Linked DNA regions of Homo sapiens: region 1 is linked to region 2. Evidence: fine-mapped expression QTL. A gene starts in region 2. The other region holds a variant in brackets. All regions are shown on one strand. Distances are between the middles of the regions.

Evidence for each region. PIP is the estimated chance that this variant, and not a neighbour inherited with it, causes the effect.
Region 1: its variant is fine-mapped to the expression of FTCDNL1 in whole blood (INTERVAL, PIP above 0.99).

Annotation. Positions count from the first base shown.
Region 1 is chr2:199,735,530-199,743,869 of GRCh38, forward strand. It overlaps a transcript of FTCDNL1 not described here. Among named protein-coding and RNA genes, the nearest start is that of FTCDNL1, 110 kb to the right of the region's middle. The variant G/T (reference allele first, on the strand shown) is at 3,430.
Region 2 is chr2:199,847,127-199,855,466 of GRCh38, forward strand. It overlaps FTCDNL1 (formiminotransferase cyclodeaminase N-terminal like), which reads right to left and starts at 4,066. Exons shown (of 5, transcript NM_001363886.2): 1 at 3,614-4,066; 2 at 1,722-1,843. The coding sequence starts at 1,836. RefSeq lists a silencer at 3,847-4,126 and an enhancer at 3,958-4,532.

The DNA of each region.
Region 1 (8,340 bases), 110 kb before region 2:
CATGCTTCCTTGGTTTTTCCCTAGACATATCTTTAGTGGTGAGCAAGAAGCATTTCCATCTGTCCTCAGGTAAAAAAACTTCTTTTATAGAAATGGGCAAAGAAATCAGAAGATGCCCAAGTAGAAGAGTTCTTCCTCGTCTTTTCATGTTTGGTGGTGAGCAAGCACACGGTATGCAGACGCCATAGCTGTGTTCTTCTCGCACTAAGGCTGTGTCTTAGTGAAGGCAGTGCTCTTGTCTGCCATATTCACAGCTCTATCATAATTTCCAGCATGACACCAGGCAACAAGGCACTTGATAAATATCTGTTGCATATTTGTGAATGAATACAGCAGAGCCAGAATAACTACCATCTATTTTTCCCTCAAAGACTCACATACGACAGCGGACAAATCTATCATTTGTCTATGTACACTACCCTCTAATAGCCTTTCCTTTTATAGCTATGAATTCTTTGAAAATGTTTCAAGATTTTCTTCCCAGCAAAGTCAGAATAGCCTATGCCAACCCCAATTAGCTTTGTGACTATTGGGAAGTAAATGGGACAGAGGGCATTTTCATCAGCCCACCAACTCCAGCATTAAGTGCCTTTTAAAACTGGCTTTCTGATAAGCAAAGCTCTCCAAGCTTCCAGGCACTTAAACATTTATCTGTAAATATTTGACAGTGATAAAGAGATGGGTGCAGGTTAAGTGGACGCATCTTCAGATCTTTACAGAGCAAAGAGGCTATCAACCTGACTCTTAAAAACATGCCTCAGGTTTTCATTTGTCTGCCCTTCAATGTTTCCATGAGCTTCCTTGGATCATTTACCTGCCTTAGTCAACCTTAAACAAATACCAGTTTGCACTCTGGCCTCCAACCTGTACTTCCAGAGTTATGGGGGATGCCTGACTTGCTTGTTAGAACTCACAATGTGGATGCTAACCTTGACTTTCTAGATAGAAGAAAATCTTCTCAAACGCTACCTGCAGCATTCTCCCTTAAAGGTAGAAATAACAGTATGCCTTCTGTCTCATATTTTGTCTTTACCTCTGTATTGCTAATTCAATCCATTAAGCTGCCTTCACTGAGGAAAAACAATATTTTAACATGCTTAGATTCAATTAGAGAAGAAGCAAATCCCCTTCCCACAGAGTCAAGCCTGGTGATGTTGGTTTTTACAGGAAGAACTTGACTAGTGTCATTCGGCATCACAGTAGTGATATCACTTCAATCTACAACTGTGAGTGTCTACACAGCCTCAAAAGACGCAGCTACCCATACACTGAGTTCAGGCACCAACCAACCCAGTCAAAGCAATAGTCAATTGAACTGGTAATTTGACTGGGTTGAAGGGTTGTTTGATTGAACTGATTAATTCAGTTCAAAGCAGTTATCCTGGGAACCCCCTGTTGCCCAAACTGTCCCACTGTGGAATGAATGTGGACCACAGTGGACACAGGGAAACAGGAGAGATTGGCAGAAAGCCATTGGCTGCCAGACTGCTGAGCCACAGTGCCTGAAGTATCATGGAATAAATTTCCAAAACAGCAACTTTACTTTCTGTGTTCTCCACCTTGTCTGAGAGCTGTGATGTTGTTAAGAGCAAGAACTCTGGAAACAATTACCTTGGACCAAATCTCATGTCTGTCACTTACCATCTTTGTGACTTTGAGTGACTTAACTAATCACTCTCTGCCTCCAGTCTATAATTTGGGCATAATACTACCCATCTTACTGGGTTGTTTAGTGAATCAACAGGTTAATACATATAAAGCACTTAATAAACAATGAATGTTAGCCATTATTTTTGTTATTATCTAACAAAAGGAAATTTCAGATAGGAGCCTTCATAGTATGAATAGAATTTCCCAGATTGCCTTGGATACTTTTGAATTTGAAATAATATATTTCCTAGTAAAGACATTTTCATTTGTCAATAAATATTTTATTTTTCCAGAGTTCTCCAAATACTCATAGGTATACTAAATATATCAACAGAAAGGTTACCTGGAATTATCCTTTTGAAAACTTTCATAGTGGTGCTAAAATGACCAGAACTCTTCCTGTGTTGACTAAAACAATCTTTTAGAGAGATGAAATGTGTAGAAAAAAATTAATTTTGTGTGTCACGCCTGGGGCCACTGTGTCTCCTGGGCACAGAGCTGGCTTCATAGGCTCATAGGTCCCGCACTTAGAAGGCCCCACACTTGGTTTAATGCTCTGCTGGCATCATTTTGAAAGGCTGAATAACGTGAATAAAGAACTCCGCATTTCATTTTGCAGTGGTCCCTGCGTGTCACGTAGCTGGTCCTGCCTGGGTGTGACCTATTACTGAGAGGTAGAGTAATGCAAATTCCACAATTAGGAGCGTTTCAGTTAGAAGATATTTGTATGATACTTGAACCTGAGACATAAGGTTCCCTGTTTCTTCCTGTCTGTTGGGGAAGCTGCCTCAATGACCACAGCTGCCTCACGGCACAGGCTCACGGAGCCTCTCCATTAACTGCTTCACTGGGTTCTCACAGGTTGGGGGAGTTGATAAGAAACGGGATTCTCAGTCATTTCCCTCACCTGCAATTCCATAGATGTCTGCTCATTATTCAAAAACATATTTTGAATCATTTTAAGAGCCTAAAAGTTTCTCGATACCATACACTGAAAGAAAGATTTGGGTTTCTCTCCCCCATCCCAGCCTTCTCTAGTTCATGGCTCATTCAGAAGCTCTTGACGTGGTCTCTCTATTGTTTTTCTACAGCATGAGATAAAAACTACTGTTTTAGTTGTTTGATTTTTACTGTGTGATTAGTCTAGGCATGATAGACAGGAAAGCACGTAAAGCATTATTTTATTTGAAAGCCAGAAGCACATCATGTTTATTAATAAAGAGCCTGGTTTACATAGATTTTATTATTATTGAGCATAAAATGGTTTATATTACAAGCAAGGGTGAAATTACTAACTAATTAGCCTGTGAAGATCACGTTTAATGGAATATATAAATCTAGGGCATTGCTTTTTTTTTCCCCCTTGCAAACCTTAAGGGTCTTTTTCATTAAACATGTACATATGCAGTCTTCATGCTGAAACAGAGGATTGTGATACACAATTCAAGGTCAAATGATTCACTTTGTGTTTCCCAAAGTCCAAAATCTCAGTGCTTTAAATTCCTTAACTCTTAAGAAAGCTCGTTTCAATACACAGCTGCTTTGGTGTGAATGCTGAATTCAACTATCAATGATGGTAAAGAGAAAAGCAAATAATGATGGAGTGAAGCAAAGGTGAAGACTGTAAGGGCTAAATTTCCTCCTCTCTCTCTGTATCCCTCTCTCAGTACTATAGCTTAAGACCCACTTAACTCTTCCAAAGGAACTTTGTTTCTATTAACTCAGAGGATTGCACAACCTTTGTAAACACACCATTCTCATGTATTTCAGTTAAATTTC[G/T]TAATAGCACCATAAAATGTGACAGGCGTTGCAATAAATTCTCAGTCACAGGAAGCCCAAATTGTATGGGGAAATTACTAGAAACCATGTCTCAGAAGGAAGGAAGAAATGCAAAATTCTTCAAGAACCTGGAAAAATAATGTTAAATGTTTCCTTAAAGTGTATGTCTCTCATTGAAATAAAATGAAGACTGTGTTTTAAGTAAGATTTCAAAGTTTGAAGCAGTGTGGCTATTTTAATCACCCGACTTCACTCACATTCTTGAATGCTGGTTCCTGCCTCAAGGCCACTGGAGAGGAGATAGCCCTTCCTCTTTCCCTACCCTCTACCACTTCGGAATCGGGGTGCTCTTATCAACAGGGGGCTAAAACTGCAAGGATGCACACAAATGTGTGCTGCGAATTTTTTATTTTCAGAAGGAGCTTTACGGGTAAAACTTAGAGTATATTGGGCTTATCATCTATTCATTGGTTAAAAGTTGACTTGCAACATAGTGTGATTCTAGTTTTTACATTCAAAATCCAAGTCACCACACTGTGGACAACACACTTCTGTTTTGGGAAGCTAGAGTATGCTTATGTGAAAGAACAGAGGCCTCCATACAGGAGTTTGGCTAATTGGGAGAAAGTTGTTTCATTCCTCCCTTGCTTATTCGAACAGCCTCAGGGTGACTACAACAATCAAAACCAAACCAAAACAAAAAACCCAGTTTAGCAGCTATGATAATACTAGAGTGATTTTCAGTTACTCTGTGACCATCCCAACACCCCGAAATGCTTAAAACATTATTCACAATGAAAATAACGCTGCATGCTGCCATAAAGTCCCCGTCATTCCGTTTTATGGAAGTGCTTTTGTTTAATGTCAGAACTCAGAGCAAATCTAGACTTACCAGTCCATAAGATTTGCATTCAGGAGACGTTGTGTGTAGAAGAACTTCAGTATGGGCTCTGGAGGGCCTAGGATCCTGGGACACGGTGGGGTTTGCGAACTCTGGGAGCCGGGCCTGCCAGGCTCACGTCATTTAAAGATGAACACTGCCCCCTGCTGGCGAGAGTACGCATTGCCGCCAGAAGAACTTCGAGGGTGGAAAACAACCACTGTTTAAAGGGGAAATTAATTTCAATTACCGCACCTTTTTTCACTTCTTAGCTGTCAGTTCAGAAGAATTATAACTGCAAAGAATCACTATTGCATGGAAAAACAACTCGGTTCATTTTATGACTGTTAGTCATCTTTATGAGCTACCATCACTGGCAAAGAGCCACCTAAATGAAAGGACAAGAGAAACAAAGGCAGCCACGGTGGTGCCGGAAACTTTTGAGATGGAGCAGGGCCTGGAGAAGAGAAAACTCTGCAGGTGTTAATAGTTCAGAGTCTGACGTAGCCAGTTGCACCACCAAAAGGTAGAGTGGGAACTCAAGCCAAGCTGTAGTTCTGAGAGCTCTCCAGAGCCTCTGAATCGCCTTATTTTCTGCCCCATTCCCTCTTGCCCCCTAATCTGAGCATCATGGGAGCTGCCCGGAGGAGTGGAGCACAGGGCTGGAGCCCCATTCTAAGGACGTGTTAGAACACCATAAGGACATTCCATAGGTGCCCTCCCTTCCCCAGCTTCGTGGGGTGAGCTGTGATCAAGGTGATCTCCAAGAGCAAGGCTGCAGGGGAGAAAGGCCCATCCAATGGATTCATTAGAAACAAAGAGTTGCCTGCTCTGGCAACCTCAAAGGCAATTGTCATTGAATCTCCTGTAGCCTCTTTGAGTTAGGAAAACTCGGAGGGAGGTTGTTGAGGGGAGTCTGGAAACGCAACTCACATTCACACGAAAGGGAGGTGGCAGTCCTGGGGAGAGCTAACAGGTAGCAACTCTCGATTTGAAAATTTGGATTACACAAATTGAGCACATGCCCCTTTTCATGCTGTTAGAAGACAGGGCTAGGATCTACTTTCATGAAATGGTTCGGCAAATGTTATAGAGGGTCCACTGTGTGCCAGCTTCCTGCAGTGTCTCACAAGTCTTCATTCAGGCAGTCCTTCACAGATCACAAAGAACGGTCATGCCACTCTATCAACACAACTCCCTGAGGCAGGAATTATGACCTCCCCTCTATATGTTAAAAAATTTGCAATTAGAAAGATTAAATAACTTGCTTATGTTCGTGCAGTTAATAAGTAGAAGACAGCCTGTGTTCATCCTGCCTTGGGTATTTTAGAGTTGGCATTAGCAGGAGGATCGCTTGAGGCCAGGAGTTCGACGCTGCCGTGAGCTATGATCGCTCCACTGCACGCTAGCCCGGGCGATAGAGTGAGACCCTGTCTCTCAAATAAAACAAAACAAAAGAAAAAACAAAACTCAAAGTCTCCATATCAACCTATGAAAATACAAATGCAAAACTGGGTAACCAAAGAAGTCTATTAAATATGTACCTAATTAATTGATGAACTCCTTGTAGGAAGTAGCACTGGCCCACAAAGCACCACCATGCTTTTTAAATAAGAACTAATTCAACATTTTATTTTTTAATTAGCAGTCCCTTTCGATTAGGTGACATATTTATATTACTCATTTCAGAATAATTATTATACTTACGGAACAAATAATATATTCCTTCAAAAACACCTCCCCCTCATTAACATTCTCTAGCTCATCTCCACTTTGCTTCCAGAATTGTCTTTGTAATCCTAAATAAAATATTTTCAAATGTTACTTCCCTCCTCAAAATTCTTTATTGTCCTCTGGAACTAGATGTTAACAAGCGCACTATAAGAAGTATTTCAAAACCAAATCAAAGGTTTTAAGAAAGCTTCATTTTATATCTTCCTCTTGACATATTAATGCTCTGAAAATCCTACAGTAAAAAAAAAATTAACTTTTTTGTACTAAACATTTCTCAAATATATTGGACCACAGAATGTTTTTAAATTAATGGAACAGCTATTAACATATCGACGAATCTGGGGAATACAGTTTATGTAATATTGGCTGCCTTGATAAAATCTGGACTCTTTAGCATGGCACATGGGCTTTTCATAAACCAATACTTGCCTACCGTCTCCAGCTTCATTTCCTACCCTCCGCCCTCATATGCCCCACAGCAGACCCAACTATTTGCTATTTCCAGAATGTATCTTGTTCTCTCTGCCTCAATTTTTTTTTTTAAATACACTGGTCCTTCTGCCTAGAGCATCCTGGGGCTTCTGTGTTCATCTGATCCCCTCCTAACCATTCTTTCAAATTCAAGTCAAGTCTTCCTTCTCTGTGAAGACTCCCCCACTACCCCCAACACTTCCCTAACGCCTCCCATGAAGACTTACACCCTGCTCCTTCTTTCCCCTGGCCCTGTGGGTACCTCCCTCCATTTACTATACCAATGTGGGGTGGGGGGAATTCCTCTGTTTTCCCATTAACTGCTCAAAGGCTCCAAAGTAACTCTGTTTCTTAGGATTTATCATAATGCCTAGAATGTTCGGGGATCAACGCCTGGAGAATTTTGCACTGAGATTCTCTTCCTTATTTTAATTTCTTCTTTATTCAAAGTAGTCCTACACAAAGCAATTTTATCTCTTCTTAAAGTCTTGATGATACTACTACTAATAGCTCATAGTTATTGTGTGTTAACTATGTGCCAGGCTCCATACTAAGTGTTTTTTATGGAATACATTGTTTAATGATTTCAACCGCCATATGATATGAATATATGATTATCTCCATCTTACAGATGAGGAAATCAGGCACATAGAAATGAAGTCATTTGCTCAAGGTTACACAACAGGTGGAAGCAGAGTTGGGATTTGTACCCAAAGAGTCTCTCGGTTTCTAGTCAAACAAGGAAAAAGTTCACTACAATAGAAGTAGAAAAATAAGGTATGAGTTTTCCTCCAATTCACAAAGGAGGAGGAAGAATTATGCTTGGATATTTATGGTGCAGTGTAGGAGGACCACAAAGGAACTACAAATGGGTCTCGCAAAAACCCACCTGTTAGGTTCTTGGGGAAAATAAGCGAGCATTATAAAGAAGACTGGAAATGTTATTTATCTGTAAGAATGAAGCAGCCTTCAGGGGTTACCTGGAGGGCCAGCTGGAGGCTAATCTCCAACTAAGCTCCTGCTGTTTTATCCCTAGGGCAATGGGAATATCAGTGGCAGCTGTTTTAACAGCAGCTGGGGCTACAGTGGTGTGGTTACCATAACCACCATGATCACCTCAACAGCCCATGTGGATCTGTCCCCAGCCCTGTAGTCTCCTCTCTACAGATGGGGAAACTGAGGCTCAGTGGGCCCAGTGACTGCTTAAGGTCACTCAGTTAATAACAAAGTTGAGCTCAAATCCAGATCTGACTTCAAAGCCCCTCGAAAGACTCTCAGGAAACCAAGCAGTCTTTAGAAGCCCACTAGGATTTTAGCTGCTTATGTGAAATTGTATATTCTCTTGTATTCTTTTCTTGAATGTTAGCCTGAACATCCAAAACCAGACTGTTTACCTCTTGAGACAGAATGTTATGCTTTTGTCTATCACTGTTGAGTGGAGAGTACATATTCATTGAACGTTTCTGCACTGATTAAATGAGGACCAAAAGCAAAGGTGTAGATGGAGTGGTGGAGACTCTCCCTGACTTGCAGGCAAAGGCAGCCTGTCAGAGGCTCTGGGCGTTTCTCCTGAGACTACATGCTGTGTGGAACCTATGCACGTCCCTTGCCTCTGCCTCTGACTGGCTGCAAGATGGTAATTAAGCCTCTTAGTGTCTCGGGGTCTGCAGGCCATCGTTAATAAAATGAGGTTATAGGTTCCTCTGAGGGTTCTTCTAACACTACATTTCCAGAGTGATATTTTCAGAATTGAAGGGAATAGAAATTTCCCCCAGGAATTCCAACATGACTGGTAAACAATTTGCATTTTCAGTGGTTTGCATAAG
Region 2 (8,340 bases):
CCTGGTGTAGGTCTAAAATTTATTACTCAGATTCCTTTACCTAAGACCTTTCTAGGCCATTTAAATGTGCTCACATTGCTTAATTAGAAAAAAAAAATACAGTTTATATGGTTTTATTCCACTCACTTAAAAATAAATGCCTTTAAAATATTTGTAAAAAAAAAAGGTTCATTTTCTTAACTAGTGCTACCTTCCTTGCATTTTGAAAACTACAAAAGATGAAGTAAGAAGAAGATCATGCAACTTCCTATTTTATATAGTTTTTCAACATACTCTAACTCCTGGAAGAAACGAGATATGATGTAATTTTTTTCATCCTAAATCTTCTCCTGAAAAGCTTTTATTCTCAGTTTCATATGATTCAATTGAATCAAATGCTGAAAGAATAAAACACTCTCCTGCAATTTCTTAAGCATGCATATAGAAAAGAAATTACTGCTGGCAAGAGGAGCTGTCAGTGTGAATCTCAGCAGAAGTAAATTGTTTGGTATTTGTAATGGAGTATAATAGCTATAATTCCATTTGAGCTGCTGCCACTAATAAGCTGATAAAAACTGTGAGTTGAGACCCAGGCATCCATCAGTGTGTGTCTTCCACAAATGTCTCTGCACATTCACTTAATCACAGAGACAGGCAACCCAATCCCATTAGATGTACTGTTTCTGACAATGAAGAGCCCGAGCTGGCTCTTTCCACAAAAAGCATGCAAAATCACAGCTGCATACCAACTCCAAAGAAGTTTTCTTATCAGCAATTATCAGGAATTTTCATAGACATTTCTAGCTCCTGCAAAGTTGCAAGACAGTAACTTAAATGTGCTCACAGTTAAGATGGGTTGGGGGAAAACACTTCTTTCTTATGAAAAGCAGTAACCACATTAAAAATGACAATCGGAAATTAAAATTTACTGTCTGAAATGCTTTAGGGTTGGTTTCACCTGTTGCCAAAAAGTTATTGATTTAATAACAGCATTCTATTTAAATGATTGTATACACTGTTGTGTGTATTAGTGTGTGTGTCAAAGTAAAGACAAATAATACCTAACCATGTGTCACCACAGGAACATTTTAAAAAATGAAATGTTTTTTAAAGAGCAGTATCTTTCATAGTAATACTGGCCGAGGGAATAAGGAGGCATGAGTTCCAGTCTTCTGTCACCAAATTGCTGAGTGATCTTAAGCGCATCATTTAAATGCACTTGCCTAACAGTGTCTATACAGAGAAAAGAGGGTAGAAATAATAATACTGTAATGATTGCATGGGCTTTGCTGGCAGGAGTGCTGGGAAAAGTAGTTGGTATTTGGCAAGTTTATTTTTCATTTAATCTGCTCAATAAAAAGCATAAGGTACGATTATGCTCATTCTATTAATGATCAAATAAACGACCCATGAGGGAAACATTATACTTTTATGTAAATACATCCTCCCCAGGAGCCTGTCAATATCCTGAACAACACGCATCTCAGAGATTCACACGCAAATGTTAAGAGCTGCGCTGCTGAGCGTATGCAGACATTTGGAAAAGAGCATATGTGCACATCTGAGTAACTGAGCTATCTCAGTATCCTGGAGTTGCGCAGAGCTGCAACAGCTCAAGAGCAAGGAGGAAAATTCAGGAAGAAAGAAAGAAAAGTGTTCTGTAGATACAGTGTGCACAGTACAAAAATTACTAAATTATCAAAACACTATAATATTCAGCTTCAATTGTCTGTTTTTCCTACCATTTTTGTCAAGAAGAGCTGCTTTTGCTATGTTCTCAACAATGTATTTTCTTCCGGCTTCTGAAACGTTTAGTAAACAGGCAGCCAAACGGAGCCCCACTCTGGAAGAAGACATGATTTTTCTGGAATAGGAGAAAAATTTTTATGTGTCTCTAGAGTTGATTCATATTTTCATGTTTTAACTATAAAAAAATCATAACTTTTTGGAAACGAAGCAGTCATAATATGAGCACTTTACTATTTCATTCCTAGAAAAATTCTAAAGCATAAAATCTCCAGATTGACTAAAATAAGAAACCATGTGTACATGGTCACATACATATAAACCTTGTAACGACACTGGAAAATACCTGGCAGGGTCCTCAGCGTGAATTTCATCATGTAAGTGAAAGTTTTTCATTAAAGTATGTTATCCCATTTTAAGCATAGTTTTCCTTAGCCTTATCCCTGTTTTCAAGGTCTGTACTATTTTACAAACAGGTATGTTTTTTTTGTTGTTAAACTAGACTTAGTGGGGAAATGCAGAAAAAGAAAATGAGGAAGATTATTTAATATGTGGATTCTTATAAAAGAAATTCTTGCAGCAAAAATGAAAGTGTCTACAGGCCATGCCATGGACATTATACAAATAAATAAGGAAGCCATTTGGATGGTTTACATGACAATTGTCTAAGTTCCTCCTTGTTCCACCAAAGTTTCTAAATCAGTTTAAAGTCTTTTTACAAAATTCTGTAACTTGAAAGATGATACATATTCTGATACATATTATTCAATAATATCAAAAATGTGATTTTTGTTGAAAATTAATTATACAGGTTTTGGAGGTTGCTTTGATACTTTTTAGTACTCTAGAATAGCATTTTTGACACATCTTTCCATACTTCAAATGATATTCATGATCTAAAGGAATTAAAACATCTTAAAATAATAAGAAAATAATTTCCCTCTTCAAGTTCAGGACCTCATAACTTTGGTCTCTTTTAAATACCATAACTAAAAATAGATGAGGCCCTCATGAATTCATTCAACAAATATTTAATGAGGGTCTTTTTCTGACAGGTAATGTTCCCTGTGTGAGGGATACCAACCACTGTTCCCTGTGTGAGGGATACCAACCACAGTGGTCTAACTCTGAGACACGCGTTAAACTTTAGAGTTTAAGCTAAAAGTGCTCTGGTGCAAATAATGGTGCTCTCCCTCAATAAATCCACTGGCTTGTTCGCCAGGATCATTCGTTGGCCTAATCATCTTAACCTAGAGAGAGCTCAGGCTTCGTAGCTAGCTCAGGTTTGCAGGCAGGTTTTCATATCATGTCCATCATCTCATCACTGAAAATTCATAAAAATTCTGTCATTAGGTTTTTCTAGATATTAATAACATTGTTGTAATAAAGCAACCCAGACCTCTCGTTTCTATGTAAACAAAAAATTGCTTTACACAAGGGGTGTGGGCGTCTTCTGGTTTTCATTTGTTTTCAGTGTGTTTATGCAGCTTAATTGTCTCATCAGGCACTTTCCCAACATAATTATGCTTTTTAACAAATGGTGTTTATGGCAACCCCTAACAGTGCAAAAGAAAGGATTAGTTTCATCCTCTCATTCCACATTTTGATTCCCTGTGGACAGCTAAATCACACAAAGATGGTGTTAGAAAAATTCACCTTCACAGCGAAGCTGAAATGAGCGGCAGTACCAGGCTCAGAAAGTGACCCAAACGCAAGCCCCCCAAAACACTCTGTGTTTGGGACAGGGAGATCCTAGTCCTCCCAGCTCATCCTTCAATTACCATTGGATGACCTCTGGTGATAGATTAAACACTCGGCCGTCCCCCGCCCCCGCGCCTCCCCACCCGCGGAGAACCTAGCCTAGCAAGTGCAAAGTGCAGCAGTTCACCTGCCCCCTGCGCACGCACCCCACCGGCACTTGGAGGCCGCAAGGACGCTCGCCAGGCTGCCGCAACGCGTGCTGGGGCCAGAACCCCGCTGCTGGGATTCCCTGCGCGGTGCCGACTAGGTTCCTGGGTGGAGTGTCCCAGGACCACGTGGGCTGAAAGGGAACCCGAAGTGACTCCCGGCCTCCCCACAGGTCTCGCGGGACGCAGCAGCGGCGAGGGCGCGGGGTTGTGGCGCCTGGGAGCGAGGGGCAGCCGGCGGCTGCGCTGCCCCGGCCGAGCTCTCGAACCAGCGGCCGCGCCTGCCGCTCTGCGGTTTGGGAGGGGAGCGGACCTGCGAGCGCCGAAGGGCGGTGGGGCAGGGCGACCGCCCAGCCCAAGTCGCCGCCGCGCGTGGCCCGCGCGCAGCCTCCGCCGCCGCGCGTGGCCCGCGCGCAGCGTCTGCCGCCGGCTCCGCCTCCCGGACGCCCGGAGCGCGCCCCACCCCAGCCGCACACCGACCGGGCTGGCTCTGCCTCTCCCTCCCTGACCCGGCACCACGTGCCTGGCGTCCTTGAACGCTTCAGATTTTTATCAGTGTTGCCTTTTCGTTTGCTCTTCCGTATCGCCAGACCCTCCACAATTCTCTAGTCAATTAATGACTTTAAAGGGGCATTGGCATCTAATGATCAGGTCTTTGCCTATTGATCATGCACCAGCAGGGGGCTCTTCTCTCGTTTCCTTGGAAGGGACACACGCACTCACACACACCCTTCTGGTAAATCCCCTCCTGGAGGATTAGTGCCCCCCGTGACTGTGAACTGGACCCACCCCGGGACAAAAGCAGTCCTTGCGCATACCCATTTAGTCAAAGTTACAACGAATATGAATCAGGCTTCCGCATTTCCTTTTTTTCTAGGCCACTCAACCTTGAAAACACATTTCGCTTCCAAAAAATCAGGACCTGCTTTTTTTTTTTTCGTGTAGCAAGGATTAAATGTCACCATTTTGATCCAATTTTGTTCCTGTAGTGAAATAATCACTAAATAACTACTTTGACGGAATAAATTAATTTTTAAATCTATTTTTTATTTTCTAATTATAATTTTTAAACACAGATTTGAGGAAATTAACATTTATGTGGACATTTGGTTTCTAGCCTAATGTGGCATAAAAATAAGTAACATAATGAGTGTTAAAAAAAATCAGGTTCATGATGCTTCTCACATCATCATCATTGTACTTAGATGTCACAACAGTATTATGTGCGATTATGTCAGATCCAGCCTTCTCCATCTCGGAGTGTTGGCAGGTAGGAGGGTTGTTGGCAAGAGGAGGGGTGTTAACCTCAGGATCCTGGATCCATTCCAAGGCTGGTAATTACATTCTGCCAGCCAAAATTCATCCCATAATTTTAATTGGATAAATCCTTTCTGGCCTAAGCTACTGCTATGCCTGTCAAACTGTTGCCACATTTCACCCCAGAGGTGTCTGTGTTTTAGTTGCAAGAATCAGTCCCTTTGAGGTTGGCTTATCTGTTTAAATCCTCAAAATGCACTGGGATCCTATGGAATTAAATATATATTTAGGTATTTTTTTCTACTAAATCTGCATAGAAGTGCATAAAGTAGATACATACCCATGTTATTACCTAAAGACCAATACCTATCTAATGTCAGCATTCACTAGATAATTTTGAGAGCTTTTTAATCAGACCAATATTCCTAACTTTCTTCATCTTCTCTTTTGAGAGCTTTTTTGGCCTCTAGCTTTAGCTTCCGTTTTCCAAAAAAAGTAATGTGGTGTCCAAATGTTCCTTCCATGGTAGGGCAAAGAACCAGAATCCCCTGTATTTCACCTTTCCAAACAATCGGATAATGATACTACTTGCCAAATGAGACAGCGTAATAACATTACATCTAATCTTATAATATTTCTCCAGAGAAAACAGTGTGACACCTGGGGGCTTCATGGTTCTAGCTGTAGAAACTGCCAGAAGGAAAGCTTTTCCCCCCACAGCTCCTAATCCTCTCTTTCTCCCGAGAGACTGTTCCTTACGGAGCTACAGGCTATGGGGGCATTAAGTAAGATAACATTTCTGAAAGCATCCCTTTCTCCACTCTACTCACTTCAAACCCAAATGGAGAGAAAGCAGGGCCCCAGTGTTCTTTGTGGGGGGCAGCATCCGGCCCCTGCCTGAGGAGGGTAAGCATGTATTTTTGGAAAATACAAGGAGACACATACCAACCTGTCCCATGAGAAGTTTAGCGATACGATTGAAAGTATTATTTTGTTCTCTTCAAGAATGGAAAGTTACCATCGGTTACTTTAGGTGTACCGCATGTACTCCTGCCCATTTCACTACATAAAAGAGCTTTATGTCACATTTCTGTGTGCATCTTAAGTCTCTCATTTTTATTTAACTTAGCATTCTTTGGAGGGAGTCTTCCTACTTTTTGAATTAATGTATTATTCTGACTCCTTGATTCTTCTGCTAAATTCACCTTGTGGGCATTAGTTCTTTTGCTCATTATGGTTCCTGTCCAGAAAGATATAAGCCCTGGAATAGAGCAACTGAAACTCCCATGGGTCAGTTCTATCTACGACAACTGCTGTTCTGTAACACTCCCATTGGCTTCCTGTTAGACAAAGAGGACACTTTTCTTTACCCTTTGTTTTCGTTTTTGCAAGCAGGGAGAACTTAGTTCTTGTAGGAGACTTTCCTGACCCAACTGAGCTGAAGAGGGTAAAAGGGAGAGGCTGTGCTCACTGTGGCCTCACAGATCTACCTGAGCCCACAGCCCAGGTGTTGGTTGAGCAGGGCCAGGATGAAGGTAAGGTCAGTGAGGCGTTCACCCTGGGCACAAAATGTAAGTAGGTGCCAAAAAACTCAGGGATGCGACATTTTTTAAAATAAAAATTAATGCAGAAAAGAAATGTGGTGAACAAAATATCAAAATCTTAAGTAAAGACAGGATCCGACCCTGCACTTGCCTCTCAACTCAGCCTCACTGACCTCACCCTGATCCTGGCCCTGGGATTGTCCGCTTGTGCCAACCTGTTTCTGATTGTAGGCCTGAGAGGAAACTGTGCCACTCCGCCCTGCCTGCATCCTTTCTTCTGCCCCACAAAATGGGCAACAAAACCAACAATGTCAAGGATAGAAATTTCCAGGCCAGTGGAGACATATAATTCATACTCTGTTCAAGAGTTTCTAGACCTCCATAGATAGGAGACAGCCAATTTATTTCAAAAGAAGGCAAGCCAGGCGCAGTGGCTCACACCTGTAATCCCAGCACTTTAAGGAGGCCAAGGCAGGCAGATCACTTGAGGTCAGGAGTTTGAGCCCAGCCTGGCCACCATGGTGAAACCCTGTCTCTACTAAAAATACAAAACTTGGCCAGGTATGGTGCTGCATGCCTGTGATCCCAGCTACTCAGGAGGCTGAAGCATGAGAATCACTTGAACCTGGGAGGTGGAGGTTGCAGTGAGCCAAGATTGTGCCACTGCCCTCCAGCCTGGGTGACAGAGCAAGACTCTGTCTCAAAAAAAAAAAGAGCTGGGCGCAGTGGCTCACGCCTGTAATCCCAGCACTTTGGGAGGCCGAGGTGAGCAGATCACAAGGTCAGGAGATCGAGACCATCCTGGCTAACACAGTGAAACCCTGTCTCTACTAAATATACAAAAAATTAGCCAGGCATGGTGGCGGGCGCCTGTAGTCCCAGCTACTCAGGAGGCTGAGGCAGGAGAATGGCGTGAACCCAGGAGGTGGAGCTTTGCAGTGAGCCAAGATTACACCACTGTACTCCAGCCTGGGCAACAGAGCGAGACTCCATCTCAAAAAAAAAAGAAAAGAAAAGAAAAAGAAAAAGAAGGCAAAACCTTCTTGGAACTAGGAAAAGAATCAACTTTACGTACCTGATACATTTCAGAGTATGAAAATTAGGTTTCCTATTGTGCAGCAGAATTTTGAAATGTTTTTAAAGAACCTCCTAATTAATACTATCTATATTATGGGTTGTTTTTTTTTGGTGTAGCATTTGTTTGTGTTCAGGAAAACATGAATAGAGAATTATCCTTAGAAAGACAGAAGTCTAATTCTTATTGCAACTTGTTTCACTTTAATCACATTTTTGCACTACGTCAGACTTCATTCTATCTTCTTCCCTCATGGAACGTGAAAAGATTTTATTTCTCCTTGCATATAAATGTGGTCTGATAAATGAGGGATTTTTTAAAGTGATCTTAGTTGTCACTATAGGACAGTGAAGTGTTTTTAATTACCTGTGAATTTTAAATTGTTTTATCATGTGATATTATGAAATATGTGTTCTACTAGTCATTTTTCTAAAATAGCAAATAGGTTTCACTGCTGCCATTATTAGTTTGGAGTGACAGAAGCTGTGCTATTAATTTAAGCGAAGAAAAGGAGGTTGATGTCCAGAAAAAAGTGACAGCAACTAACAGAAACACCTCCATTCCCCACACACCTGTGTATTAATTACATAAAATGATCACTAGCCATTTTTGTCTGGATGAAGGAAGGGTGTGGGGAACCATAGAATTTTGAAAATTAACAATTTATTTTTCACCTTAATATTTTTGAAATCACTTTCTCTTTACACAATATGGATTGGGTTCTTTCTCTTTAGTCTGCCAATGTCTCTTTCAAGAAAGACCAGTAGGCTAAAATGTAAGCATAGTTATTAGCTTAAAATGGAATCACTTGCTATGCATTCACAGCTGGAGT